4 separate regions of the Homo sapiens genome follow, and regions 2, 3 and 4 are each linked to region 1. The links come from fine-mapping of genetic effects on gene expression. A gene starts in region 1. Each other region holds a variant in brackets. All regions are shown on one strand. Distances are between the middles of the regions. Region 1 holds the start of CPNE3 (copine 3). Region 2 overlaps RMDN1 (regulator of microtubule dynamics 1). Region 3 overlaps CPNE3 (copine 3). Region 4 overlaps CPNE3 (copine 3).

What was found. PIP is the estimated chance that this variant, and not a neighbour inherited with it, causes the effect.
Region 2: its variant is fine-mapped to the expression of CPNE3 in thyroid (GTEx, PIP above 0.99).
Region 3: its variant is fine-mapped to the expression of CPNE3 in whole blood (INTERVAL, PIP above 0.99).
Region 4: its variant is fine-mapped to the expression of CPNE3 in nasal epithelium (TOPMed, PIP 0.94).

The regions. Positions count from the first base shown.
Region 1 is chr8:86,510,412-86,518,522 of GRCh38, reverse strand. CPNE3 (copine 3) reads right to left here and starts at 4,088. Exons shown (of 17, transcript NM_003909.5): 1 at 3,982-4,088; 2 at 3,024-3,061. It also overlaps a transcript of RMDN1 not described here. RefSeq lists silencers at 3,580-3,919, 4,040-4,119.
Region 2 is chr8:86,473,802-86,481,912 of GRCh38, reverse strand. RMDN1 (regulator of microtubule dynamics 1) reads left to right here. Exons shown (of 10, transcript NM_016033.3): 6 at 1,581-1,636; 7 at 2,903-2,990; 8 at 4,589-4,619; 9 at 6,960-7,093; 10 at 7,555-8,111. The coding sequence ends at 7,605. It also overlaps the pseudogene NTAN1P2. Among named protein-coding and RNA genes, the nearest start is that of RMDN1, 31 kb to the left of the region's middle. The variant T/G (reference allele first, on the strand shown) is at 3,963.
Region 3 is chr8:86,561,001-86,569,111 of GRCh38, reverse strand. CPNE3 (copine 3) reads right to left here. Exons shown (of 17, transcript NM_003909.5): 17 at 7,614-8,111. Among named protein-coding and RNA genes, the nearest start is that of CPNE3, 51 kb to the right of the region's middle. The variant G/A (reference allele first, on the strand shown) is at 3,209.
Region 4 is chr8:86,550,930-86,559,040 of GRCh38, reverse strand. CPNE3 (copine 3) reads right to left here. Exons shown (of 17, transcript NM_003909.5): 13 at 7,941-7,995; 14 at 7,807-7,858; 15 at 4,057-4,190; 16 at 2,703-2,939; 17 at 1-753. The coding sequence ends at 631. Among named protein-coding and RNA genes, the nearest start is that of CPNE3, 41 kb to the right of the region's middle. The variant C/T (reference allele first, on the strand shown) is at 3,135.

The sequences.
Region 1 (8,111 bases):
TCACCGTTTACCCTCAATGAAAATCAGTGCTGCATCCCCTAGCTGAAAATCCCAAGTGTTCAGTTGAAAAGTTTTCCATTATAAGGACTAAGTAAAGCTGCTGGCCAGCTGTGCAGCAGGCAGGCTGGATCTGATATTAAGGTACACCAACCTGTGAAGACTGAAGTCTCCTGGGGTTCTCATTCCCCTCAGACCACATTAAGAATTTCCCCCCTTCTGGAATTTCCCAGATGTTGAACCAGCCACCAGAACCTCTCACCTGCCCTGGTGTCCACCATGCCCCGACTCTAAATGCATGCTTTCCAAAATTTGACTCCTTTCCTTTTCTTTGTAGGGGAGCATGTATATTTAATTGGGCAAGATGGGCACTTCACAATTCATCACCGTGTGCTCCTTTCTAGTTCACGGTGAACAAATAATCTAAAAATGCCTTCAGTTTAAAGCAGCAACAACCACAACCATGTGGTTCTCAAGGTTTAAAAAGTTTGTATATTGGGCAAAGGCTGTTGAGATGTTTATACATTTCCTGATTTCAAGAATATTCATGTCCTGGTTGCTTAACACATCGTTTCAGCTGTTTTTAATTAGGGCAAATCCCTTTATATTTCCCAATCATGAGCAGTTTAATAGTACTATTAATTCATTCAACACTTATTGAACAAATATTATAGATTGCCTACTGTGTGTCAGGCACTGTTCTAAGGTGCTGGAGAGCCAACAATAAACAAAGCAGGCCACCATCCCCATCAGGGAGAGGTTAGTTACACTGCAGGAAGGCAGACAACAATGAAGACAAATAAGTAACATATATAGTATATTAGGTGGCAGTAAGTGCTACAGGGAACAATAAAGAAGGAGAACAAGAAGTACTGAAGGTGGGGTGCAATTTTACATATTTTATAAAATTGTTTTGACAATACCATCAGGAAGTATTTGTCTTAATTTTCACTTCTTTTTAAAAAATTCTGACACATAAACATGAAAATGTGGACAGATAAGTAAGTTCCTCTTTACAGTTGCAGGTACCTCTTTTAACAGGTACTGACCGTCACCTTGAAGTCTAAAGGCGTGGTAAACTAAAAGCCAGGGAAGGTGAAATAGCCGGATAACAATGTGTCCAGAAAACCACACAGTTGCTCTGGTAATTTTCACAGGAACTAGATATAATACAACCATTTGCAAGAGACATTTCAAAATGATTTACTAAAATGAGTATGTAGTATTTCCTTCTTTTTTTTTATGAGGAAACTTACTAATATGCTATCCACCTAATTCATATTGGTAAATGTGACCATAATACTGATGAATTTTAATGTCTTTTAAAAAGTTATGATTGCATACTGCTAAGCTGTTATATTAAAAGAATAAATAGTCTCTCCAAAAAAAACCCCAATACGATTCCCACTCACAAGCAAGAACAAGAAGGGAAAATATTGGTGGGAAGGAAGCTAGATTGTAGGCTGAAGGTAATGGTGGGTACAGTAAAGGAATGCTCTAGTTAGGACTCCTGCAGGTCACTGAGTACCACCAATGGAAGTGACATTGAGTCTTGCTAAAAGATCCACCTGAAATATCATGCTTTGGTGAGCAGTGGTGGCATTATGAATCTTTGAAGGTCAAATGACATATAATCATTTTTCACATCTAACATTAACTTTTATAGTTTTGCTAACAGGCATACTTTCTAGCATAATAAATCACTGACTAAAGAACATTTGAAAGGGAGGAAAAAAGAGAAAACTCTAACAATAGTAAGAAAAAAAGCCCAGTGATAGTACCAAAAAATAAAGAAGGCAAAGGAAACAATGGATAAGCCATACCAAGAATTGATAGGGCCGGGTGTGGTGGCTCACACCTGTAACCCCAGCACTTTGGGAGGCCAAGGCAGGAGGATCACTTGAGCCCAGGAGTTCAAGACCAGCCTGGGCAACATAGTAAGATCTCATCTTTATTATAAAATAAATAAATAAGTAAATAAAAGAATTGATAGGTGTTGGAGTACAATATGAACTAGGTACCGAAACAGATGCTGCAAGGGAAATACCCAGGGCAGCAGTGATACCATCATAAAGAGCATAGAAAATAAAATATTTTAAAATGTATAATAGGTTGCCATAAACTTATATGAAAATGAAGACCATTGTCTATAAAGTGTTCACAGTTATAGGTAAAATTAGAAGAGGTGTCCAGTCATTATGCAACCCTTAATGGCAAACACTCCTTCTGTTTCTCCCGTCCTGGAGCCTCCTCTCCCTTCCTATTCTTCAGGGACTAGACCTGAAAGAAGAAATCCTGAAAGAGAACTGCAGACTTCATTGTGGGGTTTGTGCCAGGCACCTTTTGGTCTGTGGGGTCCTAAAATTCAGCTCCACCTCACATCTAGAGTCTCAAAATGATCCAGTCCCAGAGTTTGAAATTTTTCAGCCCAGAGTGGGATGTATTTTTCCAATTCATCAGCCAAAAGGAACTGACCTATTAATAATTCTCGCAAAGGCAAAAAGTGGCCCTGGGTACCACAGATCAATGACTGAGACATCTATTGTTGTCACTATAATTGCCATTATATATGTCATCTGTTTTCAGTTCCCTTTTCGTTTCCCATCCTTTGCTGTTTCCCTCTACCTATGTTCTAGGCTTGCACAAGTTCTGTTTGGCTCTGGCTGGCAGCACACACAGAGAGCTAGTTTGCTGACCCTTATTAATGACATCAGGATATATGTGGCTATATATAGCTTACCACTAACTACGTGTCAAGCACTTTGCTAAATGTTTTACAAGTAGGATCTAATTTAATTCTCATAGCAACCTTGTGACATTTTATCTCTATTTCACAAATGCAGAAACAGGCCCTAAAAGGTGAAGTATCCTGCCCAAGGTCATACAGCTAACAGCCCTCATAGCATAGATTTGAAACCTAGGTATCTGGCTTATCCCAAAGAATAATGTTCTTTTACATTAAGCAATAAAGCCTGTGCCCTAAAACCATACGGACTTGAATTCCAAACCCTAATGCCACCACTTACCAGTTGTGTAATTTGATGAATTATTCAACCTGAGTTTCCTGGAGAATGAAACAGAGTAACATCACTTTAATAAGTGCTTGGGAGCGTTAAATAACCTAACATATAAAAACTGTCTAGCACAGTTGTTGTGGGACATTGAAATCAAGTCACAATATTCAATCCCGCCCTTCCCTCTATTTGATTATCCATTATAGAGGTGGCCTCACAAAGACAACACTAAGGATATGCAAAAAGTGCAGATGATCATTAAGTGCAACATAAATGGTTGATCTGCTCGGTCCCAACGGGTTCTGGCCGTGCGCTTCCTCCACAATCCTGGTGTAGGGAACCCAAAACACTAGACAGAAGAATCTTGAAGCTGGAGGAGAAACGGGAGCTGCTAGACTACTTCTCACAATCTCCTTGTTTACCCTGAAATCAAGAGTCACCTCTTCCCACTCCATCTGCCAGCTTCTCGGGTGCTCTGAAGCGCGCGCCCCCCGCTCAACTGGGCATTGGCTTCACCACGGACGTGGTGTGGGTACCCTATCCCTCTCCCCGCGTGGTGCTGCAGCGATTTCGGGACCTGTCACCCTTCTCTGGGCCACAAGCCCGACCCTCTCCGCCCAGGGAAGGAGGGCGGATCCCAGCCTATCCCCAGCCCCAGGTGCGCGAGCGCCAGGCCCAGGCGGGGCCTTGCGGCCCGGAGCTGAGCCCCGAGCCCGGGCTCCTCCAGGAGGCGTCGGCGGTGCCTGGGTCCAGCCAGGCCGCGACCTAGCTCGGGAGCCTCCCCGCGACCTGCCGATCCCCAGCTGCGCGAAGCCCACGGAGCACTTCCAGCAGCAGGGCCCGGCGGGACCTGCCGCACGGAGCCTGCGGGCTCGGATCCTCCAGGCCAGGACTTTCCTTTTCCCCCGGGCGGTACGGTTGCTGGGCTGCTGCCTCACCGGCCCAGGAACTGGGAGACGCCCGCACTCACGTGGGAGTCTTAGAGGTGGAAGTCGAGCGACGGTGGAGAACAGGTTGGCAGCGTCCGGAGCGACGCTGGGACCGCAGGGATTCAGGAGAACCTAGGGCTGGACTGGCAGAGCAAGGGGGCGGGGAGGGGGCGGGGATGGGGCGGGTCCAGTGCGCGCCCGCCCCGCACAGCCTGCGCGAGGATCAGCCCATCCGCAGGGAGCTGACTCCGGGCTGCATGTCAGCTCCTTGCCAGTAGGCTGGCGCTTCGAGGCCATTCTGGAGGCCAGTCGCTTACTGAAAAGGCAAAACTGACTTTAAGGTAAGTGGTTTGGTGCACCAAAATAAATTCCTTAAGGATTAAATAATTTAAATATTTGAGAAAATTTATGCCATATCTGAACTGAGAAGACTGGGCGCAGTGGCTCACACCTGTAATCCAAACATTTTGGGAGGCAGAGGTGGGAGGATGGCTTGTGCCCAGGAGTTGGAGACCAGCCCCAGCCTGGGGCAAAAAAATGAGACCCCCTCCACCGCTACAAAAAGTAAAAAAAAAAATAGCTGGGCGTGGTGGCACGCGACTGTGGTCCTAGCTACACAGGAGGCTGAGGCAGAAGGATCACGGGCTCAGGCTGCAGTGCGCCATGTTCGTGCCTCTGCACTCCAGCCTGGGTGACAAACAGACCCTGTCTTAAAAAAAAAAAAAAAAGTTACCAAGACAAATTATCAACATGAAAATAGCGAAATACATCTTAGCTGTTAACCATGCTTATATGCTTATTTAGGGCATTCTTAATGTGCACACTACCAAGGACATTTTATATCCTTCATTACCTTTAATCCTCATGATTCTGTGATGTATTTGGTGCCAGTATACCCATTTTACAAATGAAAACTGCAATTGAGTAACATGAGATTTGGAAGCTAAATAATTGGCCTACTTTTCTGAAGTCACACAAATTGTAAGTAAACTAACCTCAAAGTGCAGGCTGGACTGCTTGCTACTCCATGCTGCCTGCAGCTAAACAAAACACTATGGAAAATATTGATACATGACTGCTCGATAATTTAGAACTTCTTCCCAAGGAAACAGGGACAAAATCAATAAAACACATTGGGAAAAATATTGGTCCCAAACCTGACAGAGTTAGTATCTTAAGTTCATTTATTTTTTATTTTTATTTTTTTGAGACGCAGTTTCGCTCTTGTTGCCCAAGCTGGAGTGCAATGGCGCGATCTCAGCTCACCACAACCTCCGCCTCCCGGGTTCAAGCGATTCTCCTGCCTCAGCCTCCTGAGTAGCTTGGGATTACAGGCATGTGCCACCATGCCCAGCTAATTTTGTATTTTTAGTAGAGCCAGGGCTTCTCCATGTTGGTCAGGCTAGTCTTGAACTCCCGACCTCAGATGATCCACCCACCTTGGCTTCCCAAAGTGCTGAGATTACAGGTGTGAGCCACCGTGCCTGGCCTCTTAAGTTCATTTAAATTGATAAGAAAAAAAAAAACACCCAATAGAAAAATGGGTGAAGGTTTTTTTTAATTACAGAAGAAATGGAAAGGGTATCAAATGAAGAAACACAGACATTCTTAAGTAAAAACTTTACTCTTAATCCAAGAAATGCAAACTAAACATTTTTATTTTATTTATTTTTAAGAAATGGGGTCTCACTATGTTGCTCAGGCTGGTGTTGAACTCCTGGGTTCAAGTGATCTGCCAGCCTTGGCCTCCCAGAGTGCTGGGATTACAGGTGTGAGCCACCGTGCCTGGCCTGCAAATTAAACATTTTTAAAATCGTATCAGTGCCAGTGAGGATTCATTCATTTATTCAACAAACACTATGTGCATTGCTCTAGACTTGTGAGCAAGACAGACAGGAACTTCTATCCTAGAGGACGGTTGAATCTTAAGTTAGTTGTTAAAGACAAATGAGATTTCAGCCAGCCAGAAGTGCCATGAGAAAAGTTAAGGCAGGGTGATGTGATAGAGGGACTTGAGGATAGTGTGAGCTTATTTAGACTGGGGATCTGAAAAGAGCTCTCTAAGATGGTATTTGATCTGAGATTTGAAAAATAAGCAGCAGCCAGTTATGCAAATATCTGGGGCACAGGAATGGTAGCAGGGGCAAAGATAAGAACAAACTGCCAGTGCAGAAACAAGGCCTTTGTTGCTGAAGTGTACTGGGGAGGTACTACAAGTGTTTTAGTTTTTACTAAAGGTTTCTGGCTCTATTTTTGATTCTACTTTCACATGTAAATGAAGGTTCTTAGGCACCACTAATTGGATTGCAAGTTTCAAATTTTCCAGAATATATAGTATCCATACCTAACCTTCAAAACTTTTCTTTACACTAAAATAGGGAAAGAGTAGAGGCAAGGGGATGGTTTTGTACTTTTAGTATCCAAACAGCAATCTATCATCTAAATACATAGTGCCATAGCTATTCAATGTATTTATTCATTTTCCTTAACTACAGTCTAAATCCCATTCTACTTTTGTTCTCATTCATTCACCCATTAATTTAACATGTGTTGAATTCATGTTAGATACCAAGCCTAACAAGGTTCTAGAAATAAAACACCACCTGGTGGAGAGTTAAATGCATGTTAAAATGAAAGATATTCACAAAATATTCTTTCTCCTATGTATTTTGATCCTCATATTTCTACCTTCACTCTTTCAGTCACATTTTTAATTACCTCATCCTGTCTTATAGCTTTTTTTTTTCTTTTTCTTTTTTTTTTTTTGAGAGACAGGTTCTTGCTGTCACCCAGCCAGGCTGGGATGCAGTGGTGCGAATACGATTCACCACAGCTTCAACCTCTCAGGCTTTAGCCTGAGGCGATCCTCCCACCTCAGCCAGTAGCTGGGACCTACAGGCACGAGCCACCGTGTCTGGCTAATTTTTGTACTTTTTGTAGAGATGCGGTTTCACCATGTTGCCCAGGCTGGTGTCAAACTCCTGAGCTCAAGAAATCCACTGGCCTTGGCCTCTCAAAGTGCTGGGATTACAGGCATGAGGCACCACGCCCAGCCTTAGTCTCAGAGCTTTGAATTCCATCTATATTTTCTCTCTCTTTTTTTTTTCTTTGAGACGGAGTCTAGCTCTGTCACCAGGCTGGAGTGCAGTGGTGCGATCTCGGCTCACTGCAAGCTCCACTTCCTGGGTTCACGCCATTCTCCTGACTCAGCCTCCTGAGTAGCTGGGACTACAGGCACCCGCCACCACACCCGGCTAATTTTTTGTATTTTTAGTAGAGACGGGGTTTCACTGTGTTAGCCAGGATGGTCTTGATCTCCTGACCTCGTGATCTGCCCGCTTTGGCCTCCCAAAGTGCTGGGATTACAGGCGTGAGCCACCGTGCCCGAACTTCTTTAATTTTCTTTTCTTTTTTTTTTAAAGACGGTGTCTCACTCTGTTGCCTGGACTGGAGTGCAGTGGTGTGATCACCGCTCCCTGCAACCTTGGACACTTGGGCTCAAATGATCCTCCCAGCTCATCCTCCTGAGTAGCTGGGACTACAGCATGCACCACTACATGCAGCAAATTAAAAAACAAAAACAAAAACAAAAAACAAACAACAACAAGAAAAACATGTTTTTGTAGAGACAGAGTCTCACTGTGTTGCCCAGGCTGGTCTCAAACATCCTGGGCTCAAGCTGTTCTCCCGATTTGGCCTCCCAAAATATTGGGATTACAGGTGTGAGCCACTACGCCCAGCCTATATTCTTAAGGTTATCAAACTTCCACACCTTTCCTCTGAAACTCCACACTCCAACTCTCTATGCTTTACTTGGCTGTTATATTAGTTATCAGTTGCTGTGTAACAGATTACATCAAATTTAGTGGCTTAAAACAGGAACAATCATTTATTATCTGTCATAGCTTCTGTGGTTTAGGAATTTAGAAGTGGCTTAGCTGGGTGCTTCTGGCTCATCATCTCTCTTGATGTTGCAGTCAGATATTGGCCAAGGCTGCAATCATCTGATGGCCTGACGGGCTGAAGGAGTTCTTCAGCCCAAAAGTTCAATTGTGCCAAGGCTGAGAAACCCTGCTTTAAACCGATGGGACTATACATTTAAAAAATACTAATGTCGTGAAAGACCAAGGCTGACGATTTAAAGATTTAAAGAAAGTAGAAACATAACAAA
Region 2 (8,111 bases), 37 kb after region 1:
GCCGAGCCACCCCACTTTGTTGAACATATTAGATCTACCTTGATGTTTTTAAAAAAAAATACTGCTCCAACTAACACACTGTTTCCTGGAAATAAAGCCCTACTCTACAAAAAAAATGAAGATGGCTTGTGGGAAAAGATCTCTTCTCCAGGAAGCTAAAAAAATAGGAATTACCAAAGAAAGCAGAACCTTCTTGGCCTGACAGAGACCATTGGTGGGGCCAGCAAGAATCCAAATTTGGAACCTACATCCATTGGGTCTTAGGTCTTCTCCTTCCTTCCTCAGTGTTTTTCAAATGACTTTCAAAATAAAACCTTATTTTGGCAAAGGCAAAAAAAAAAAAAAAAAAAAAGGAAAATTAATTAAACCCTGATCCCCCCAGGCATCCATTGTGATGAATTAACTTCCTTCCTATGCATCTAGAATGGGACTACAGTATTTCTGTATCATTCTTAGGAAATAGAAAAAAATAGTTACTTACACAATTTTTTTGTAGGGCTTAATTTTTAGTGGAACTCCCAATTGAGAAAGGTTGCTTAGAGCATAAGTTGCATATAAACATGTTAAGATACTTATTTATTTTTTACCACAACCTTATGAGTTAAGTACATGACTTTTCCATAAAAGAGAAAAAACTCAGTTGTGGTAAGAATATAGATCTTGCAACCAGTTCAAGGTCATTAAGCTGTGACTTGAATCCTGGCAGTCTGGTTTCAGAGACCATGCTCTTAACCATTACAAATATTTGAAAATGTGTACCTCACACATTACTAAACTGAAAGCAAAAGTGTGGGTTTATAGAAAAGCATAAACTAGGAAATCTTAATTTTTTCAAAAAGAGTCCTTTTAATATGAACATTAATCTGTAAGATTTCTTTAGTTGTTTTCAACAAAATAATGGATAAAAGGAGGAACAGTTTCTTTATTCTGTAGTTTATATTCACATAGTAAATATAAATTAGGGAGATTCAACATATTTTACATTGCACATAATTATTCTATTAATATTCTATAAACTGTTTATTTTTCCTTTGGTAAGTACAGATGGGGAAGTTGAACAAAATCTGCATACAAGAAGACTTTCTAAAAATAGAAAAGACTTTCTAAAATCTGCATAGAAGAGACTTTCTAAAATTACATTTTTTCTAAAAAACTAAAATGCACTTTTCTTCTTTAGGAAAGAATGACTTTTATTCAGTATTCATCTACAGTTTGCCAAGAAAGTACTTCCTTATCCATTTTTCCTTTAATTTGGAAGAAACATTAAGAGCTATAGATTAATTTGCAAGATTAATTTGCAAAATTAATCCATTTATGTATTTCATGTTTTTTCTCATCTTGATAGACACTTACTATAAATGTCTGAACCATACAAAATAGTAACATTAGTATAAGTCATTAATAGTGTTTTGAAATGAATTTAATCAAAGAATCAGGAGGAAGAAAGTTGATATTATAATGGGAGAACTGAAACACACAGTTGCATTTTTTAAAAAATCATGGCTTCTTCAGCAAACACAGTAAAGCACTTATTGGTGTTTAGAAAACAAATATGATTTATTTTTCTCATTTCTTGTTAGAAAGCAATTGAACTGAACCCTAAAGATGCTACTTCAATTCACCTTATGGGTATTTGGTAAGAAAATTTCTTTAAATATTTCAGTAGTATTTAGTGTGATATTTTGTAGTATGTATAAATATCTTCTTTTGCATATATAAAAGATATTAAATATTTTAAAATATTATCTGACAGAGCTTAGAGTGCTAAATCCATTAACTAGCCCTTGTATATATATTGTTAGAACATACTAAATTTGATTATGACCATGTTAAACATTGTTATTCAGGTCATTTAGAAACATGTACAGACTGAAAAGACTATTCTTATTTACCATGCTAAATGAAATTAGATTAATGTAACTATAGTAAAACAGTAGAATGCCCCAAGAGGGTCTTTGTATCTTCAAAGTGTGTCAGATACAGTCTTGATTAATCTGAGGAACCATATAATCTGATTTTCAGTATCTTTCTATTTTTATGTGATCTTATGTCCACTGTAGATTATTATTTTGCTGGTATGAGGCTTTATCAAAGTGTTACGTACTTGATGGTTTAAGAGTCTGTTTTGAGATAGATGGGACACTCTTTTGAGTATAGCCTGCAGAGCTGAATATTTACTGCCATCTAAGAAGGGTACCAGTGTAAACTGTCCTGTATCAAACTCTTTTAAAAGAGAAATATATTCTTCAGGATAAAGGACATATTAAGCTAACACTCATTCACTGAGGATTAATGATAATTGAGGGGCAGTCACTAAGTCAGATGCTAGTAAGCAAACCCAAATGAAATAGCAATTTCTGCCTTAAGGACTTCAGACCCTAGTCAAAGATGCAACACTTTCTTTCCTACTTATTTCTGAAAGTTGTAAAGATCTTTGGAGGTTAATCATTTGCTTTGCTGCTTTAAAAATAGATTTAAGTTGTTGGTTGCTGTTATTTATACATTTGATGTTTAGCTTTGTCATTTTTCTTGTGTAAGGTTTAACTTCTCTGAGTTTTTCTTATAAGAAAAATAGGGGAAATTATCCTATCTCATATATAATTGTTACAAGGAATAAATGAGAGAATCAACCCACTACCTGGCACAATGCACTCAGTGGTAGATGTATATTATATTACTGTTATTAGTATGACTGCTTACTATTTATATTTAATCACAAAATACACCCCCCAGCTAAAGGATCACTATGTCAATCTCTGGATTACCTAGTAGATATCATGTAAAGCACAAGTTGTTTAAACATACAGTAGAAGATTCCTTTTATAGTATTAAGATGCTTAGTTAACTTTAAGAGAAAAGAAGGTACAATTTGAATGTATAAAATTGTTTTATTTCCCTGTAGGTGCTATACATTTGCCGAAATGCCTTGGTATCAAAGAAGAATTGCTAAAATGCTGTTTGCAACTCCTCCTAGTTCCACCTATGAGAAGGTAGTATGATGTCCTTTGTTAAGTTAGTACGGATTTCTTAACCACAGCGCCATTCTACCATGTGTTCACACATGTGGAGCTCTGATTCAGTGAGGGACTTGAGCAATTTCTAATGATCCAATTCAACTGTGTTATCACAAGGCTTAACACTTATTATCCTTGACTGGTGAGTGGTTTTCTTTTTCCCCGTTAGGTGAGTGGCTGGTAATTCTGGAATACTGTCATCTAAAATGGCTCGTGGCTAAAATCTACCTTCATTTTCTGTTTGAAATCTAAACTATATTGAAGTCATAAAATAGAACAAGAAATACAGCATCTGTTACCCAGCATGTTTTAGCTGTATTACACACAATAACAGAAAAGTAAAGCAGATGCTTAAGTTGATAAAAGAAGAACACTCATTATAACTTCTATTTTAAAAAGCATATGAAAGGTTCATATTCTCTCATATTTTCAAGGCCTTTTGCTTTTCTTGTTAAAAATAAGATTTGAGAGGAATTTCTGGTTAAACTTTGGGTTTACTCATCACAAGCTTTTCAGAGTAAGAAAACAGGCAATCGAAAAAGCTGTACTTGTATTATTTACATTATAACAAGGAGCTTTTTTTTCTTTCTGGGAAGCTATAGTGTAGAAATTGATGTAAAAAATACTTAGTTGTATTCTTTACACACAGTTGAGAAATATTATTAAAATAATGCACCAATATTTTATAATGGTATTATTAAAATAATGCCCATTTGCTGGACACGGTGGCTCATGCCTGTAATGCCAGCATTTTGGAAGGCCAAGGTTGGTGGATCAGTTGAGCCTGGGAGTTTGAGACCAGCCTGGGCAACGTGGCAAAACCTCTGCAAAAAAAATACAAAAATTAGCCAGGTGTGGTGGCCTGTGCCTGTAGTCCCAGTCACTCAGCTAAGCTGAGGGAGAAGGATCACTTGAGCCTGGGAGGTCAAGGCTGCAATAAACAGTGAT[T/G]GCGCTACAGCATTCCAGCCTGGGCAACAGAGTGAGACCTGGTTCTTTTTTTTTTTTTTTAAGACAGGTCATTTTAAGGACAAAAAATATAGTCAGCTCTACTTTATCAAATTAGTTATGTTTCTAGAAATCAAATGTCATTAGAGAATGCATTACAAAAACAGTAGCTTAAGTAGGACAAAAAGAGTTTCAGACTTAACATTGTATGTAGGAATTTCAATAATAATGGACTCTTAAAAATTCACTAGTACAACGAATAAATTCAGCTTTTGATTATATTTTGTTTTTACTAAAAATCACTAGTTATGATTTAAGAGAACTGTCAAAATAGCTGAGTTACACGTGATAATGTTCTTTCCTTTCTGCACATGATGTTAGTTTGGTACAAGTTCTAAACAGCAACCAAGTTATTACCAGAAGTAGTCCATATATTGTAATCTTGATGATTGAAGTGTTACGTTCACTTTGGGTGTTAACTCTCACTGTTGAAGAAGTGACCATTATTTTAAGATGATTTACTTCCTGACTTAAATATAATATAGCAGTAGATCTTTGAGACAATGCTTTTTTAATATTGTCTTCTTTAATCTTTTTTATTATGTTTGGGCTCTTTGTGTTTTTGACAGGCCTTAGGCTACTTTCACAGGGCAGAACAAGGTAAGGTATTTTTGATTACACATATTAATATAGTTAAAATTGTATGAATGCTGAATATATACTATAATAGCAATGTCTAAAGCAGTTGTTTATTCTGTTATACTTATTTTTGTGCTAGATACTGTAAAACAATTTTTAAAGTCTTTATTCAGTAAAGATCACCTGAATGAGAAATAGGCTGCTATTGAACTTAGAGCTGCAGTTCTGGAATGTCTATCATTTGATGTAATTCTGCTTCCTTTGTGAGAGCAGTCTCTGACATGGTAATTGTCTTATTCAAGACTGCACATATTGGCCAGATGTGGTGGCTAACACTTGTAATCCCAGCACTTTGGAAGGCCAAGGCAGAAGGATCACTTGAACCCAGGAGTTTGAGACCAGCCTGGGCAACATAGCGAGACCTCATCTCTACCAAAAAATAAAAATAAAAATTAGCCAGGTGTGGTAGCACACACCTGTAGTCCCAGCTACTCAGGAGGCTGAGGCAGGAAGGTCACTTGAGCCCAGGAGTTCCAGGCTACAATGAGCTGTGATTGCACCACTGCACTACAGCCTGGGCCACAGAGTGAGACTTGTCTGAAAAAAACAAAAAAAGATTATGCATCTCATTAGAGGCATTTAAATGGGAATTCTGCTATTCAGCCAGGCTAGTTCTATTGCAGATATTGTGAAAAAGAGTTTCGGGTTATGTTTGTTTTGAAAAAATGACTAGTCCTATGAAACTGCCACCAGCCCATCCTAAATTTATCCTTTTTAATATTCATACACCAAGTGGGGGAGATAAGAGACATAAGCATATGATACCAAATAGACCATAAAAACCATTGAAATATATTCTATAAAACTTAATCAGGAGAAGACATACCATGTTTATTAAATTTGAGATCCCACACATAATGGACTTGTTCATTTCATGATAACAGTTATCTTCTACAGAATTTTATCTGAATGTTTTATCTCTGTAATTCATCAATTCTGATTTATTCATTATTACCTTCACTGATACCCTCTCTTGATCATACTGTTTCACATATCATGAATATGAATCTAGGGATGACTTTTTTTAACAGATTTAAAAGTTAATTACAAAGTAAAAATATAGGACCTTAGAGACTTAAGGGTTGGGGGTGTTGAGAAAAACATGGTCCTACCCTCATGGAGCTAAAATAATCCCTGGTAACTTCAGTCATTCTTGAGTGACCTTACCTTATTTCTTTCTGGCCTATATTCAGTTCAGAGGCTCCTCTGATGCCCTTAGTATCTTTTATTTTTCCAGTGATACTTATCACTCAATACTATGAACATTTACATGTGTAAGACTGTACATTCTGAGAAGATGTGGACTTTGTCTTTTCTGGCTCACAATTGCACACTCATTACTTGGCACAATGCTTGGCAAATCTGTTGAATGACTGAGTAAATAGATGAATGATCGGATGATTGAATATACGAATATATTTAACCCCAGGACAACTTAAGTATATCAACATGGCATCACACAAATCTGCTCAAATAAAAGAAGTAAAACAATTTTGGTTAAGGAGCAAATGGAGTTAATCATTAATTGTATACAGGAAAAAGTATGCTTTGAATACAGAGGATCTCAGATTGTTAGGGGGACACTTTGTGAAGAATTAAGTTGGTGAGATAATTCCATGTTTTCATTCATAGGCTTTCTGTTTATGCTTTTCTTTCAGCCAAGAATGTTCTCCACTTTTTTTTTTGGTTTCTTGTAGCAGTTCAAAGTTTGTATATCTAGTAAAGCATTCCTTTCATTTTTATATTACATTTAGTTGTGTTCATGTTTCTCTCTTCATTATAAAGTTGAAAAAAACAGAGGTTTTGTTTCATCCTCTATGTTTAAGTATAGCTGACATCCAGTAAATGTTGATCAAATATATATATGTCATCATCATTTCATTCACTTATTCAGCCGATGTACACTGAATGTATGTTATGTTTCACACACTGTTGTAGGCACGTGGGGTACCATAGGGAACTAAAGAGATTAAAAAGAGTATTGCTGTCCTCAAATAGCATACATTCTATCGGGAGCTTCAGCTTCTCATCTATAAAATGGAGATACCTACTTACAAAGTTGTGAAAATGAGAAATGTGTATAATGCAGTGCCTAGCACATTTGTAGATGTTTATTCATTGGTAATTATTATTTTACAAATATTTGTTTGAGATATAAACAGTTGAACAAAAGAGAATTCCCATTAGTCTAATCACTTATTGACCACACAAATTTATTGAAATTTAGACCTCAGAAACAAACCTTTAAAAATAAAAGCAACACTGTTTCCTCTGAGATCATTTTTTCTTTCTTATGTGCAGTGGATCCAAACTTCTACAGCAAAAACTTACTTCTTTTAGGAAAGACATACTTGAAACTACACAACAAAAAGCTTGCTGCTTTCTGGCTAATGAAAGCCAAGGACTATCCAGCACACACAGAGGAGGATAAACAGGTAAAACATCTCCCATAAAGTAAGGCAGAAAGGTTTTGAGGCACTATTAAATGGTGAATTAAGAACTTCTTTAAAAGCATAATTTTCTAAATGCATAATATTGTTGAAAACAAGTGTGTTCATTTCAAGTGTAAATTGATTGACATTTATATTTCTATATAGGAAATAATTTAGTTACTATCACCAGGTGGATGTTACGGGTTGCCTGCTACAATGCAGAATTATTCCTGTTTGACACACATGGCAGATCGAGTTAACATTTCTAAAACATAAAAGTCATGGGATGTGTACTAAAGTGGAAGAGCTGAGAGTCTCATCTGGTCACTGTCAAGACATTTTATTGTTATAATGTCCTATCTGGTTTTTGGAAACTCTTAGAAACCCCACTTTATAAACTTAAATTTCACAAGTTAGTCTCTTAGCTCTCCTGTTTACTTATAACATGTATTTTTCCATTTTAGATACAGACAGAAGCTGCTCAGTTGCTTACAAGTTTCAGTGAGAAGAATTGAGAACTTTTCAGAGAAGATTTATGAAATAGCTAATAAACATTGCCTTTTCTTTTAATTCTAAACTTAATATATGAACTATAACTGTTCTACGGCTTTTTAAATGTTGTGACCATTTAACCGTGTAAATATAAAATATTCTAGGCTTCTTCACAAATAATAGGGTAAAATAAATAATCGCCATAAGAGTGGTAGAAATAAATCTCCATGGCTCAGGCAAAGAGATTATTTTGCATCCTGGATACCAGCAATGCAAAATGGTATGAGATTTCTAAGGATTGATCACATTGGGATGGGAGATCAAGCAAAGAAATATTTGTAGAGGAGGGGAAATGGATCTATAGGGGATATACAGGGGGATGGATTTTCAAATTGGATTGATTCTAAGTTGAAATCTTGAAGAGAAGGTGTGGTGACAGTGGTTAGGATGTTGTGGGTTCCTGACATAAAGTAGTTAAATGATATATCTTGGAGCTAACCTGTGTAAGTAAAGAACTAAGTAAGGAGAT
Region 3 (8,111 bases), 51 kb before region 1:
ATTATATATGAAAGTTCTTCCCAGACCAGGTCTTTCCTCACTGCCCAGGTCTGACCTCGACAATTAATCACCAGAAATACAGTGCAGCATGGGCTGGTTAAAAGAGATGTATCATGATAAGATCTGCAGAGAAAGAAGGAAGAAGCCACTCAGCAGAGGTTCTATATTTTAAATCTTAAATAGTTAAAGAAGGAAAACAATATCTCTATAAGAAGTAATTTTTTCACCCTGTGGGCACAAGTGTTTATTTCAACAAGCAATTTCCTCTGATTCACTGAAGCCATTCCAAGTGTTATTTGCTCAAAATTGATTATAATATCACCTTCTATTTCACTTTTATCTGTGGCCTCCAAAACTCAGCACAACCTATAAGCTGTCCTCTGGTCTTAAAAATGCCCAGCTCTATTTTGCATTGTCAAACTACATTAATTTGCTTTTGCTAACTAAAATGTAGTAAGTTAAAATAATCATTTATTAGCTCCTGAATCATTTATTGGTTTCTATAGATTGCCAATTTGAGCTCGTTCTTCTGGTCTTAGCTGGGCTAATTCATGCTCTATAGTCAGCTGCCGGATTGACTGGGGGCTGGCTGGTGTAGAACAGTCTCAGGACAGTCTCAGATGGGACAGCTTTTTTCTAACCACATGGTCTGTCATCCTGAAAATGGGTACACTGGGTGTGGAGACTGCACAAGGTTCTGAGAGGAGACAAAGCAGAAGTGAGCCAGGCTCTTGAGGCATAGGCTCAGAATTCACACATCATTATGTCTACACATTCTATTAGCCAAAGTAAGTCACAAAACCAGCCTAGATTAAAGGGGTAGAGAAATGAAATCCACTTCTTAATGGGGGGACAGCAAAGTCACATTGCAAAAGGAGTGGATCCAGAGGCAGCGGAAGGATTCTGGCCATTTTTCAATCTATCAAACAGAATTGTCACATAAAACACAGGACACTCAGTTAATGAATCCTTTTTTTTTTTTTTTTTTTTTTTTTTGAGATGGAGTCTCACTGTTGCTCAAGGCTGGAGTGCGGTGGCACGATCTCAGCTCACTGCAACCTCCACCTCCCGGGTTCAAGCGATTCTCCTGTCTCAGCCCCCCGAGTAGCTGGGATTACAGGCGTGTGCCATCACGCCTGGCTACTTTTTGTATTTTTAGTAGAAACGGGGTTTCACCATGTTGGCCAGGCTGGTCTCAAAGTCCTGACCTCAGGTGATCTGCTCACCTCAGCCTCCCAAAGTGCTGAGATTACAGGCGTGAGCCACCATGACCAGCCTGAATAATTTTTTAGTATAGATATGCTCCATGCCATAATTGGGACTTGCCTATATGAAAAAATATTCATTTTTGTCCAAAATTCAAATTTAACTTGACATCTTGTATTTTTGTTTGCTAAATCTGCCAACCCCACACAAGGACCACGTCAAAAATAAGCAAAACCTTTCTTTAAACAAGAGAGAACTTGGAACTAGAAATGACTTTTAAATTGCACAATTTCATCCAGGTGCAGTGGCTCACGCCTGTAATCTCAGCACTTTGGGAATTTGAGACCAGCCTGCCCAACATGGTGAAACCCCGTCTCTACTAAAAAAACAAAGAAACAAAAAGATTGGCTGGGCGTGGTAACATGTACCTGTAATCCCAGCTACTTGGAAGGATGAGACACAAGAAAAAAGAATCACTTGAACCCGGGAGGCAGAGGTTGCAGTAAGCTGAGATCGTGCCACTGCACTCCAGCCTGGGTGACAGAGCGAGACTCTGTCTCAAAAAAAAAAATTAAAACGCCAGGTCCGGTGGCTCACACCTGTAATCCCAGCACTTTGGGAGGCTGAGGGGGGTGGATCACTTGAGGTCAGGAGTTCCAAACCAGGCTGACCAACATAGCGAAACCCCTGTCTCTACTAAAACACAAAAAATTAGCCAGGCATGATGGTGCATGCCTGTAGTCCCAGCTACTCGGGAGGCTGAGGCAGGAGAATCGCTTGAACTTGGGAGGCAGAGGTTGCAGTGAGCTGACATCGCGCCACTGTACTCCAGCCTGGCGACAGAGCAAGACTCCATCTCAAAAATAAATAAATAAATAAATAAATAAATAAATAAATAAATAAATAAAATTAGCTGGGTATGGTGGCGGGTGCCTATAATCCCAGCTACTTGGGAGGCTGAGGCAGGAGAATTACTTGAACCAGGAGGCAGAGGTTGCAGTGAGCCAAGATCATGCCACTGCAATCCAGCCTGGGCAACACAGTGAGACTCTGTCTATAAACAAAGAAGGACTTAAAAAAAGAAAAATAAAATGAATTGCACAACTTCACCAATTGTAGTATTAGAATGGGCCGAAAGCTCTAAGTATACTCAAAGGAAAGGAGTAACTTGGTCCCCTCTTAACATAATATATAATAAGCTTATCGAACCTGCAGCCTGCAGGTCGTATGCAGCCCAGACAACTTTGAATGCAGCCCAACACAAATTTGTAAGCTTTCTTAAAACATTATGAGTTTTTTTGTAAATTTTTTTTTTTGGCTTATCAGCTACCATTAGTGTTAGTTTATTTTATGTGTGGCCTAAGACAATTCTTCCAATGTCACCCAGGGAAGCCAAAAGATTGAACACCCTTGATATATAAAAATCTATTTTATTTCAGTTGTATTAGATGAAAAATTGCTACACAGAAAACCAATAAGAGAAGAATCTGTACTTTTAGTAATTTGGACCTGTTCTATATTTACAATAATGCCTTTACCCACCTACGGGAATTTTTTAAATCTTTAGAAGGTGTTAATTAATCATTATGCTGTTCTGGAATTTATTATAACTAATCAGACCAAAGATACTTGAAACTGATATTTTAAGTACCATACCCACACGCTGTAGTAAAATTTGATGTTTTTCTCTATGGGTTTTTATGACTGACTGTATTTTTCCTACTATAACTTTTGTGACTAGAAGTGACGGTGCAAAGGTCAAATAAATGTGCATCATTAAGCAATGCAACCTGACATTTCTAGATAATAACTCCCTCGGATGAGGAAAGGGAGTGATACCTGAAAGGTCACAGCCCCCTTACTGTCCGTTTGCACCTCTAGTCATCTCTGCCCAATGCACACAATGATTCTGCCACAAATTTATGAGAATCCTCTCTGCTGGGAATCCTAAGCAATACAGAATTCAGCATATAGTGTATGCTAAGGGTTATTAACTGGGCTC[G/A]TGATACAGCTTCTTGCATCCAGCTTTGAATAAATCAAGCTCTGTTGTTTACACCAGAATCTTAGACTTGCAAGGGAATTTAACGATTCCTACCCCAAGTCCCATTTTACAAAACATTCGTGTTTTGTAATAAGACCCTTTGTCCAGGGCTACGCCAGAGTAAAGCAGAGTTCAAGGTCAAAAGATAACACATGCTTTTCAAACATGAAGCCCATGGAAAGGCTTGATAAAAGTAGCATCCACCTAAAGCAGGCCTTTTTCAAATAAACAAGTACATTTGCCAAGATTTTATGGGGTCAAATGATGATCAAGTCTGCCATGTTAGGACCATATTTATATTCCAAATCTGAGAGGAAAAATTCAGATTTAGCATGTCCTTCAGAAAAGGACTAACCACAGATTTCATTAAAATAGAAATATGTGTGGTCGGGCATGGTGGCTTATGCCTGTAATCCCAGCACTTTAGAAGGCTAAGGCAGGCAGATCACTTGAGGCCAGGAGTTTGAGACCCTGTCTCTATAAAAAATAAAGAAATAAAATATGTGGAAGATCAATATTGTTTGAATTTCAATATCACATTTGTAAAAGTGAATAAAGAGATTTAGTTATGAAACAAAACGGTTCATTCATACATTCATCTCCCTATACTAACAATGTTTCTCAACCCACGCTTTCTTAATCCATGCCACTGACAATGCCAATTTCTTTGCTGAAAGGCTCTTCCGCTTTCTCTACATTATAAAGCCCCATAAAACCTTTAAATCCCAGATGAAATGTCAAACCATCCATGAAGCTCTCCAAGATCTTCCCACTGCCCTGACGACTCTCCACATTGAATAGAAAATCTTCCCATTCTAAGCTTCAATATTTTCTCATATAAACTAACTTCTATCTTTATATATTCTCTAGTATATACTTCATTCATTCATTCTTTCAGTGTTTATTTAGGGAATGCCTTCTAAATGCCAAGGTATCTTCTAGGCTCTGAGGAGAAAGCAGTGAACAAACAGGCAAAAATCCCAGATTTCTTGGAACTGACATTCTAGTGGGTGAGGGAGGACAAGAAAAAAAAACAAAACAACATCAACAACAAAAAAACAACTTCCCAGGCTCCAGCAATCCTCCTACCTCACAGCCTCCTGCGTAGCTGGAACCAAAAGTGTGCTCTACCACACCCAGCTAATTTTTGTATTGAGACAGCTGATTTGGTTTGGCTGTGTCCCCATCTTGAATTGTAGTTCCCATAATCCCCACATGTCATGGGAGGGACCCAGATGGGAGGTAATTGAATCATGGGGGTGGTTACCTCCATGCTGTTCTGGTGATAGTGAGTCAGTTCTCATGAGATCTGATGATTTAGTAAGGGGCTTTTCCCCAACTTTGCTCTGCACTTCTCCGTGCTGCCACCAGGTGAAGAAGGATGTGTTTGCTTCCTCTTCCGCCATGATTGTAAGTTTCCTGAAACCTCCCCAGCTATGCTGAACTGTGAGTCAATTACACCTCTTTCCTTTATAAATTACCCAGTCTTGGGTATGCCTTTACTAGCAGCATGAGAACGGAGTAATACAATGGGTTTTCACCATGTTGCCCAGGCTGGTCTCAAACTCCTGAGCTTAACCAATCCACCCAACTTAGCCTCCCAAAGTGCCATGATTACAGGCGTAGGCCACTGCACCTGGCCAAAATAAATATAAACAGAGAAGAAAAATAAAAAGTACTAGGGAAAGAGGTACACTTTTAAATAAGGTGATCAGAAAAGGCCTCACTGAGTGATGCTTAAATAAAGACCTGAAGGAGGTGAGGGAGCAAGGTTCCCAAGTGGCTAGGGGAGGCTGGGTTTTCAAGAAGGGGCAACGGCAAGTGCAAAAGCCCTGAGCCAGGAATATGCCAGGCATATTCAAGTAAGAGCAAGAAAGCCCATGTGGTTGGAGTGAATGACAATGCAGAGATTAGTAGAAAAGAAGTTTAGAAAAGGAAAGAGCAGGAGGGGCCAGACCATCGAGACACTGAGAAGTTGGTAGGATTTGTGATTGAAGGCATGGAGGGAGACTTGTTAGAGTTGTGGTACTAAAGGGAGTGAACTGCAAAAGTGGTTGTTATTGAAAAACTGAATACTTGAAAATGCGATCAGGGAGGGTTTTTTTTAAATCAATAACGATAAGGTCTAGCATATGACCTTCAGAATGTGGGCTGAGGTTGAATAGAGAGCAGTATTATTATAAGGAGGGATAGAGAGTGATCTAATCTAATGATGCAAGATTCAAAGCCAGAGGTTTTAAAGAGGAGGGAAAAGCTCTCTGAAAGCAGAAGGGAGGATCAAGGAGGGTACCTACGCAGCCTCCAAGCCCAGGGGTAGATCAGGAAGAGGAAATTACCATCACTTGAGAGGGCAGCAGAGGAAGCAATGTTCTTCAAGAGAGGCAGGTTTTAATTAGAATTAAAAGGTGAAGGGACTATTCAGAAAAAAACATTGATATCAGAAATTTCTGCTAATGAACGACCCAGTTCTTGAGGGCAGAGTGGAAGGGTATGGGGCACTGGAGAGAAGTGGGATATGGAGTCAGAATACAGGGGTTGGAAACTAATGGTCTGGGCTTCTTGTGAGGACTGGCATGAACAGTGATCACAGGATGGTAGTGGAGAGCAATGAATGATAGCAGGATGGGCAGGAGAAGCATCTTTCCAGAAGCAGCATTCAAGGGACCCTCTTTCCTCATCACCATGGATGCCTGAAGGCACAAGAAGGGCCAGTCTTACTCCAACACAGCAGAGTCCCTCACCTTGCTCACTCTTGTTCTGTTTAACATATATACTGTCTCCTTTTCCATATTAGATCATAAGCTTTGAAGTCAGCAAGAATTTTTTTACTCTGTTTGAATTCCCCTGTTGATTGCCAGTAATAGACTACCCAATAAATATTTGTTCAAAGAAAAATTGAATACTTCTTACTGAAAGGAAGGGATGGTTGAAAAAAGCAAATTATTTCCTACTCAGACTTTTCTCTGAGAACTCCTTAAAGCTCCCCATCCTTGAAATTCTTCTGATTCCAGTCCTAGAAGACCAGGTGCTGCTATAAAACTTGGTGCTTTGTGAGCACCAATAAATGCTTTGTAAGCATCTGCTGATGAAAGACCAGAGATAGCTCTCCTTTCCCAAGCAGTAAGAAGTCACAATTCTGCTTATAATAATACTTTCCATCATTTTGGAGGAAGGAATCAACAGCCAAGCCAAAGTGTAATTCTGTATGGACATTTCAAACTACTGTGGTTTTTCTGGAGAATCTGGCCAAATGTAGTGATGATCAGGAAGTGATGTTATTTGGTGACAAGTGACAAGGGTGATGGTCTTGCTACATGCAAGGGTTTGGCATTCCTGAAGACATATTATCACCAGGTCTGAACCAGCCTCTGCACCATTAAGGAACCAACAAGATACGGGTCTACCAGACAATTTGATAGTGAGGCAGGAAAAGCTCAGAATTTGGAAACAGACCTAGAATCAGACACTTAGAAAGTATGTGACCAAACAGCTGAGTGTCTGCCAGAAGGTGACCACTATCAGCTCTGCCATCTGGCCTTCACCAAGGCAAAGCCATTGCGACTAGACCCACATTTGGTCACAGGGTTCCATGTGGAACTCTGTGGGCTTCTGAACTCATCTGTCTGCCCTAAAAAGTATGGTCCTCTGGTTTTTCAAATGCACAAATATAATCACATCATTCATTTGCTTAAATCAATTTAGTGGCATCCCATTACCCTAAGCCTCAGTCTGAACTCCCTTACCTGCCCCAAAAGGCCCTCAGGATGTAAACACCACCAACCACTCCACCTCATTTCTTTTACCACTTTCCCTCTTATACTTTATATTTCAGCAAACTCAAACTTCTGTCCACTCCTAGAACATTCAACTCTATACTTGCTGTTGGCCTGACAGCTTCATAAGTGCTTTTAACCTTCTTCACCTAGCTAACTTTCAGGTCTTAGCTTACATGGCACATCCTCAGGGAAGTGCTCCTTGCCTCTCAGATGGGTTAGGTCTCTCTCTACTGTATGTTGTTTCACGCACAGATCTCACATCTCTATAATTACTTGCTCAATGTTTTCTCTCCCCCACTAGACCATTATTTCTACAAAGGCAGCAATCGTGGCTGTCTTGGTTACCACTGGCAAAGTCCTGCCCAATGCCCATGACAAAAGCAATTAAAACATTTTTTTTAAAATTAGGTGGTTACACTATCCTTCTTAACATGATTGATAATCTCAGGCCATTCTAGCTATAAGCTAAGAATCTTTCCTTTACTGTACCCAGAAGAGTATCTTGGACCCACTCAATATCTTTTAAACAAATAAATCCCATAAAATAATATCCCCCAAATTGTTTAATTCAGTAAAATATGAAGTCAAAGGCCACCTAAAACACTATATTTTATTTTTAACTTTTCTATTGTTTTGGTCACATGTAAAGAATAAAAATGAAAACACACTACTCTGTCACATCAAGAAATAACTTTATCCAAAAGGAATTCAAATGTAAGATATATTTAGCATCAATTCATATATTAGTAACTTACACATGTATTGTCAAGTATGACATCCATAAAAGCACAAAACAGTTTCTAACACGTTCCATCAAACTTCTGGCGTACTTTATGTGTCATTTCCATGACTACTAACCACATATATAGAGACTAGGGGATACTTAGTGAAGACAGCTTTCCAGGAAGTTTACAAAATTGAAGAAAAAAAAAGTATGTCCAAATATGGCATAAGTAGCAATGGGGCCCTGAATTTACTTTGGAAAGATTGCCTAAGGCACCACTATAATGAACAGTTGTAAATCTCTGATCAGACTTCAAATTTTTCTGGTCTTAAAATTGCAATTCTAACCACAAGGTTAGGTGACT
Region 4 (8,111 bases), 41 kb before region 1:
TAAAAAACTGAGTATGTGCCTTTTCCTGCTCATTCAGTACTTTTCATAAAGTCCCAAGTTGAGTGCATGCTGTTTTGTAAACCACAGTGTCTAAACTGTAGCAAAAATCAGATGCATAGACAGGTTATTTTTACCTTGCAGAAAAGCACTGTATACAGAGTTACAGGAACAAATTTGATATCATATAATTTAAGAAGCTCTCATAATCAGGTATGGACATTGGCTTATACAACATACACTGTGAATCAGGCACAGCAACCTGCAAACCACATCATCCCAACAGTTTTCCATTCTTCCTATTGACAAACACTTAAACACAGCATTTTCATCATATGAAAGTAAACAAAAACAACAACAGAATAAGCTTTCCCCACACTAATTTCTAATCCAAAGAGCTTTACTGCAATTAATGTAAATTGCTATCAATCACTGAATTGACTGGGCAAAGATGGACTTGGCACTGTCCCCCCAAAATAACCTAGAAAGAATGCTTTAAACAGATATAATCCATAGAGAAAGAGATTTACATCATAAATGCTGGGGGTAAAAAGTACGTAGAATGACAGATACACGATTTGGGGTGAGAGATGGCATTGCTCCACATAACACAAAAGAATTCTGTTGAAGTGGTCACTGCTTCTGTTGTTTCGTGGCTGGGTTCTTGGGAGGAAGGAGTTTGTATGTATTGAAGTAGCCCACCACCTGCTGGGGAATCTCTGCCAAGACACACTGAGCAAGTGCTTCTTTTGGAGCCTTGTGAAAAACAAAATAAAAGTGACTTTATTAGCAACTGAATTTTCCTGGCTTTTTCATAAAAGACTAGGGATACTTCAGCAGCCACTAAAATGAAGCAATTCTAATTCATAGGCCTGTACCTTTTCTTAGGAACCGCCCATGAAATATGGAATGAGTTAACTAGCCAATGTTACTTATGATTGCTATTACTATCCCTGCTAACATTTGTCAAGTCCTTTTTCGGTGCCAGCATTCTAACATTTGATGATTTTGTTGTTGTTGTTTTATAACTTTTAAATGTGGTTCTTTCACTTACTTGGTATTAATTTTTTTTTACTTTTTTTTACAACATTTATAGATTCATAGGAAGTTGCAAAAACAGTAAAGAAAGGTACCATGCACCCTTCACCCAGATTCCTCCAAAGGTAACATCTTGCATAACTATAGTACAGTATCAAAACCAAAACCAGGCAGCTGACACTGATACAGTTCACAGAACTTACTCTGATTTCTAGTTTTACATTACTCATTTGTGTGTGTGTGTGTGTGTATGTGTGTGTGTTTGTTTCTGTATAATTCGATGCAATTTTGTCATCTGGATAGATCTGTTTAACCACCACCACAATTGAGATACAGAACTGCCTCAACACCACAAAGATCCCTACCTAACATTACTACTTTATAATCACAACACTCCACTTCCTCCCCTTCCATTGCTGGTGGGAATGTTAAATGATATAGCCACTTTAGAAGAGTTTAACAACTGCTTTAAGAATTAAACATGCAACTACCGTATAACCCAGCAACTGTAGTCCTAGGTATTTATCCCAGAGGAATAAAAACTTATGTTTGCTCAAAAATCCATGAATAGGCTGGGTGCGGTGGCACACGGCTGTAATCCCAGCACTTAGGGAGGCCGAGGCGAGTGGATCACTTGAGGCCAGGAGTTTGAGACCAGCCTGGCCAACGTGGTAAAACCCTGTCTCTACTAAAAAATAGAAAAAAATTGCCAGGCATAGTGGTGCACACCTGTAATCCCAGCTATTCGGGAGGCTGAGGCATGAGAATCACTTGAACCCAGGAGGCGGAAGTTGCAGTACTGTACTCCAGCCTGGGTGACAGAGCAAGACTCTGTCTCAAAACAAAAACAAAACAAACAAACAACAACAACAACAAAAACCCATGCGTAAATGTTTATAGTAGCCTTATGTATCAGAGAGAAAAACAGGCAACAGCCAGCTGTCCTTCTGTGGGGTAACGGTTACACAAATGGTGGTGCATCCATACCATGGAATATGACTCAGCAATAAAAAGAAGTACTTGCAAAAACTTGGTGATTCTCGAGAGTGATGCTGAGTGGAAAAAAAGCCAATCCCAAAAGGTTGTATATTGTACGATTCCATTTATATGATATTCTTGAAATGATAAGATTATAGAAATGAAGACTATATTAGTAAGTGGTTTCCAAGGTTAAGGAAGGGCTAGAAGTAGAAAGAAGGGGATGTGGTTATAAAAGGGCAACCAGGGGGATCCTTATGATGCATCTTGATTATACCACTGTAAGTATCCTGGTTGTGATTCTGTACTATAGCTCTGCAATATGTTACTACTGGAGTAAACTGGGTAAAATAGTCTTCTAAGAGATATTCATCAAACTAAACTTCCAGCTTGAGGGGGATTTGGCATACAGTTACATAAGAGTTTTTTCCTGTTGTTACAAAGGTAAAGATAAAATACTTGAGAGAGTCACAATACTATTTTAAAACAATTTATCATATAGCCTGCAAGAAGCACATAATGAACATCCTGAAGCAACACTGCTAAACCAAATCGGAGCTCTCAAATGGACAAAGGAAAGTGTTCACACATCCTCTAACCCTGCACACCTAATCAACTGCCTGGTTGTAGATGGGCAAAGGTCTGTGTTCAGTCACTTTAGTGTTTGAGTAGGGAGGAGTGGTACTCACATTCTGGAACTGTCTGAAAGGCACAAACTGGACAATATCTCTGATGGCCACTTCGCCCAATGGGGAGCGGAGACTTCCACCATCACCATCCAGAAACTCCATGGCGCTGAAGTCAGCACCTCCAACTCCAACAATTATGATGGACATAGGCAGCCTGGAGGCATTAACTATAGCTTGTCTGGTTTCATCAAGGTCTGTGATCACACCATCAGTAATAATCAAAAGCACAAAATATTGCTGCCAGAAAAAGAAAACATGTCCCCTGAGCAAGTCAAGCAATGGCTAATGGCATCTCTGGCTTGATGAGTCATCCAGTCTTTCTTGTTCATTTTCCTTGCCAGTCTCTACCCTAGCTACCACCACATAAAATATTCTAAGCTTCTCTGATGACAAGGAAATTGACTCTTACAAAAACTGCAGGTTCATTAAAAG[C/T]GCAGCAGACCACAAAATAGGGTTGGCAAAATATATGGAAGCAGGACATCTAAATGTCAAAGATTAACCTTTCAGTAAGGCTAGGAATAAACAGTTTTAACTCAAGTATTAAATATGTCAAAGTATCTATCAAGGAGGCAAGTGGAAACTTCATTCTCAGAAGATCAAATAAATACAAAAATTATTAGAATTAGAATATTAGAATACAAAAATTTTAGAAGCTAAAATACACACAAAAAAATAGATATGGTTTAAGTGATGAAATCATCCCCCAGATTGTGTCACCTAAGATAAACCTTTTCAGAGAGCAGTAAAATGTTACATCAAGTAGTGACTCCATCTTTTGGGCCATTTAAGTCTAGAATAGGAATAAGATTTACAATATTAGTTAACATATGTTGAGTGTTTACTCTGACCCAGGCATTGTGTACTTTATATGAATTATCTAACCTTTTCAACAACAGTATGAGGTAGTTTCCCCTAACTTACTTCTGAATATGCTGAGGCTAAGAGAAATTTGGTATCCACGGTCCAATAGGTAATGGTTACCTCATTCAAATATCTTTAGTACAATAAGAAATCTTGCAACAGCATCTGATGTGGTAACTTTCCTTAAGCTTAATTTGTTATGTCTACTTCAAAAAGGTAGATGATAGGCATTTTTTTTTTTTTGGTAGAACCTATCTAAGAAAGTTAATTCCAAGGATAAAAGACTCATGAATGCCAAGTGTTGTTTTGCTGTTGTCTTATTTTTAACGATCACTAGTATAACAACAACAAAAGTTACTCCCAAACCAAGAATGACTGTGTTATTGTATCTTGCCCTGACTTTGTATTATGACAAACCAAAAACATAGAAAAATGGCACCAGGAGCTGCTACCAATCCACATTCTTCCCATTCCCTGGCCATAGAGCACTTACAGAAGCTGTCTGCTGTTGCGTGGCTGCAGCAGCAAACCTGGCCACGTGATTTATGATTGGAGAAAAATTAGTTGGTCCATAGAGTTTTATCTGAGGAAGACAAGACCGATACGCCTCTACAATGCCTTGGATTCCTAGAACAAACAAACAAATAAAAAACAGTACTAAAAATTCTCAAGCACAATGTGTTTATTCACAATACTGGCTAATTTGATTATATGTATCAACATATAGTGCTTTAAATAGTCAAAAGTTCTATAAGCAGTAGTTCCTCTAAGCTATGTATTACATAACTCCATAGGTATGATCCATTGCAAAAACCTATAAGCTCTGTCCTCCCCCAATAGAAGGGATTTACTTTCATCTCAGTCAAATTACTTATTAGTCTACGGTAGGACTGTTACATCTGTGCTTAATTTTTAATACATGTTGGGAATGTGGCTCTGATAGAAAACCATGAAAAAGGTTTCACATCATACAACTGATGATGAAAGGTAAGAAAGAGTTATTAATAAAATGAAAAATCATTTGCATATATGGCCAGAGGTTCTACAAAAATACCAGATGGCGATAAACCTAATATTAATTCTAGTTAATTAACTGATACAAGTGTTTATTCAATAAGTTAAAGGTTAATCATTGTATCACAGACTGCATTAGTTCCAAATATTCACTTCCAGGTTACTTATCCATTTTGCTGCAGAAGCACTGATGTGTTTGTTTAGGGGTACTACCCCTAGACCTGCTGGTGCATTTTATAATAGAAAGTTGGACAGGACCATTTGATTAGCTTTGACCAATGCATGTGACACCCATACCTAAGGAGATGTCTTAAGAACTACTGCCTGTTTTTTCCAGCTCTCTTGCTCCTTTCCTCTGCCGTAGGAGCAGCACATCCCAGATAAGGCTGTTCCTTCAGCCTGAGTCCCAATATAAGAAACATGGAGAGAACTCCAGCCTAGCTGCATGTAAAATGAGCAAGAAATAAACTGTTGTCATTAAAGCCACTGAGATTTAGAGATTGTTTATTACAACAGCACAACCCAGTGAAAGCTGACTGACATTGCTGGTCAAAGCACTGCTGATGAAACTTGTATCCCACACAAGCACCTGTTGAATCTGCCCTTAATATCACAGCATTTAGGATGCAGACAGGATAACAGAAATTCTAAAGAATTTCCAACAATACTTGCTGAGATCATCACAGATACTTGCCACAAAAAAAAAAAAAAAAACTTAATGTAAATCAAAACAGGTCTCTTGCTTTTAAAATGTCTAAGAGAACACAGATCAACAAAAAGGAGAAGCATATACAGTCATGTGTCACTTACCAATGGGGATAAATTCTGAGAAATGCATCGTTAGGTGATTTCATCATCGTATGAACATCATAGAGTATACTTACACAAACCTAGATGGTATAGCCTATTACTCCTAGGTTAAAAACCTGTACTGCATATTGCTATGCTGAATAATGTAGGCAATTATAGCAACTGTACCTTTTCTATGTCTTTACAGTAAAAATAAAATATTAAAATCTTATGGGCCTACTGTCATACATGTGGTCTGTCCTTGACTAAAATGTCATTTTTAGTGCATGACCATACTTGGCTTGAAAGCTTCAGGAAACCAACTCTCTTCTCTTAAAATGTAAGAGTTCCAATAAACTCCTCTTAGTTTCTTTGAATTTAGGAACAGGTAGTCTTATGAACAACCTTTGAGAACATAACTAATTCATAGGCAGGGGTGATTTTACATGCAGAAGGTCCATGTTACTAGTAGTCAGTCCAGTAGTAACAAAGGTATAAATAATTCATTTAGGGCTGGGCACGGTGGCTCATGCCTATAATCTCAGCACTTCGGGAGGCAGAGGCAGGTAGATCACAAGAGGTCAGCAGTTCTAGACCAGCCTGGCCAACATGGTGAAACCCTGTCTTTACTAAAAATACAAAAATTAGCCGAGCGTGGTGGCAGGCGCCTGTAATCCCAGCTACTCGGTTGTGGGCGGGGGGGGGGGGGGGGCGGGCTGTGGCAGGAGAATTGCTTGAACCCGGGAGGAGGAGGTTGCAGTGAGCCAAGATCGTGCCATTGCACTCCAGCCTGGGGGAAAAGAGCAAGACTTCGTCTCGAAAAAAAAAAAAAAAAAATTAATAATAATAATAATTTCTTCACAAATATCAAGAGCTTTCAATTCCTTAATTAAAACTGAATTATGCCAAAACCCTTTCTATGCATCAAAGTAACAAGTTATTTCTAAGGCATATTATTTCTAAGGCAACTAGATTCAATGATTAGTTAGGAAAAGGGGATTAAACTTCCTTGCCTTAAAATAAGGCTCTGAGCTTTTTGCTGTATAGTATCTCCTTTGTTTAAAACCAAACTGATGCTTTTTCCAGAGTGTAAACCACTTGGTGAACAGCCCAAGGATGGGCTTACATTACTCACAGAGTGACTGAACTTCTAAAATGAATTATCATATGATATGTCATCCATATTCATTTACAATAAATGAAAGCTAATTACAACAAATTCTAAAGATTATCCACTTTCATTATAAAAATGAAGCATATTTCTTAAAAAGAATAACATTCCCAGTTTCAAATGGCTAGGGAATAAAAGAGGTCACAACCAGTCACTGAAAGTGCCTCAAAGAACACTGAATTAGTATGGAAAAAGTGTTCTGGGGAAAAGAACAAAACCATATTGCAAACGGCCGCCACAAAAATTGTTCATGCTCTTCCACCTTATGAATATTGTTTAGGAAGAAAAGGAAAAAACATTTTCTTCTGTTAGAAAGCTATACATTTGTAATTGTCAAAAGGACCCTTTGCAGAAAATTAGAGTATTGTCTAGAATTTTAAATTATGCCTCTGCTCCCACACCTACCTTGCCTTCTCCAAACTCTTTAGTCTGATATATAATTTAGTGGAAGAGCTGGCATTTCTGGCTGATTGCTCAATGTGGTAAAAAAAAGAAGCAGCACTTGGATACTTGAGGTATAAGGAAAAAAGTAAAACGTGGCTGGGCATGGTGGCTCACGCCTCTAATCCCAGTACTTTGGGAGGCCAAGGCAGAAGGCAGGAAGATAGCTTGAGGTCAAGAGTTCAAGACCAGCCTGGCCAACATAGCGAGACCTTGTCTCTATTTTTTTAAATAAATAAAAGAAAAAAGTGAAATGAAAGACAAATATTTGCCTCCTGCTCTCTACACAGAGGAAAGCTGCTATAGAAGATCAATTCTTTGTTCCTTTTGCCCATCCCAGCTACTTATAGAATACTGTGTGAGCAACAAGTATTAGATGCTGGATACTTTTCTCTTCGTAGAGAGTGACTACCACTCTGAAAAAAGCTTCAAAAGATCTGTATATCAAATTACTCATTTTATTGAAGGTTTGTTTTTAAATAAATTTATATGTAAAAATACTTTTAATATATGATATTTTTACTGATCTACTCCAAAGATTGAGAATGTTTTTGTCCTATTAAAGTTCTTAAGGTAGGAGGATTTAGCTTACCACCTTCATCATCATAATACTGATTTGCCCCGTAATTACCATTACCACCCTAACCACCAACCTGGTGCAATTCTTCTACCTTATACAACAGAAAGTTAAATATGTAAGAAAATGAAACCTAGAGATGAAATTTGAGTAGTTTTAATCACAAGAAAAAAAACAAAGAACAAAGAACAAAATAACAAAGACTAGTGAGCCTTTCCATTTGAAGTCTTCATGTTTATTTTTTAACTTACCATTGCAGTAGGGATTGGATGGGTTGAAGTTCATTGGAAATTCATGTGATACCTGTCAAAGATGGACAAAGGACTGATGAGGGCTGGGCTGCTTTTCTAGGAGGCAAAGCTTTAAAATAGAGATTTCCTCTTACCTGCCACTGAGGAGGTATCTGAGCGCCAAAACCAAAAGCTGGAAACATCTTATCACTAAAAAGAAAAAAATATTTAATAAAATACTGTTTTTTCCAAAATAAAAAGCTTTATCTTTGCCCACAATAAAATCCATATGAGCTCATTTCAAAAAGTATGAAGATAAAACAAAG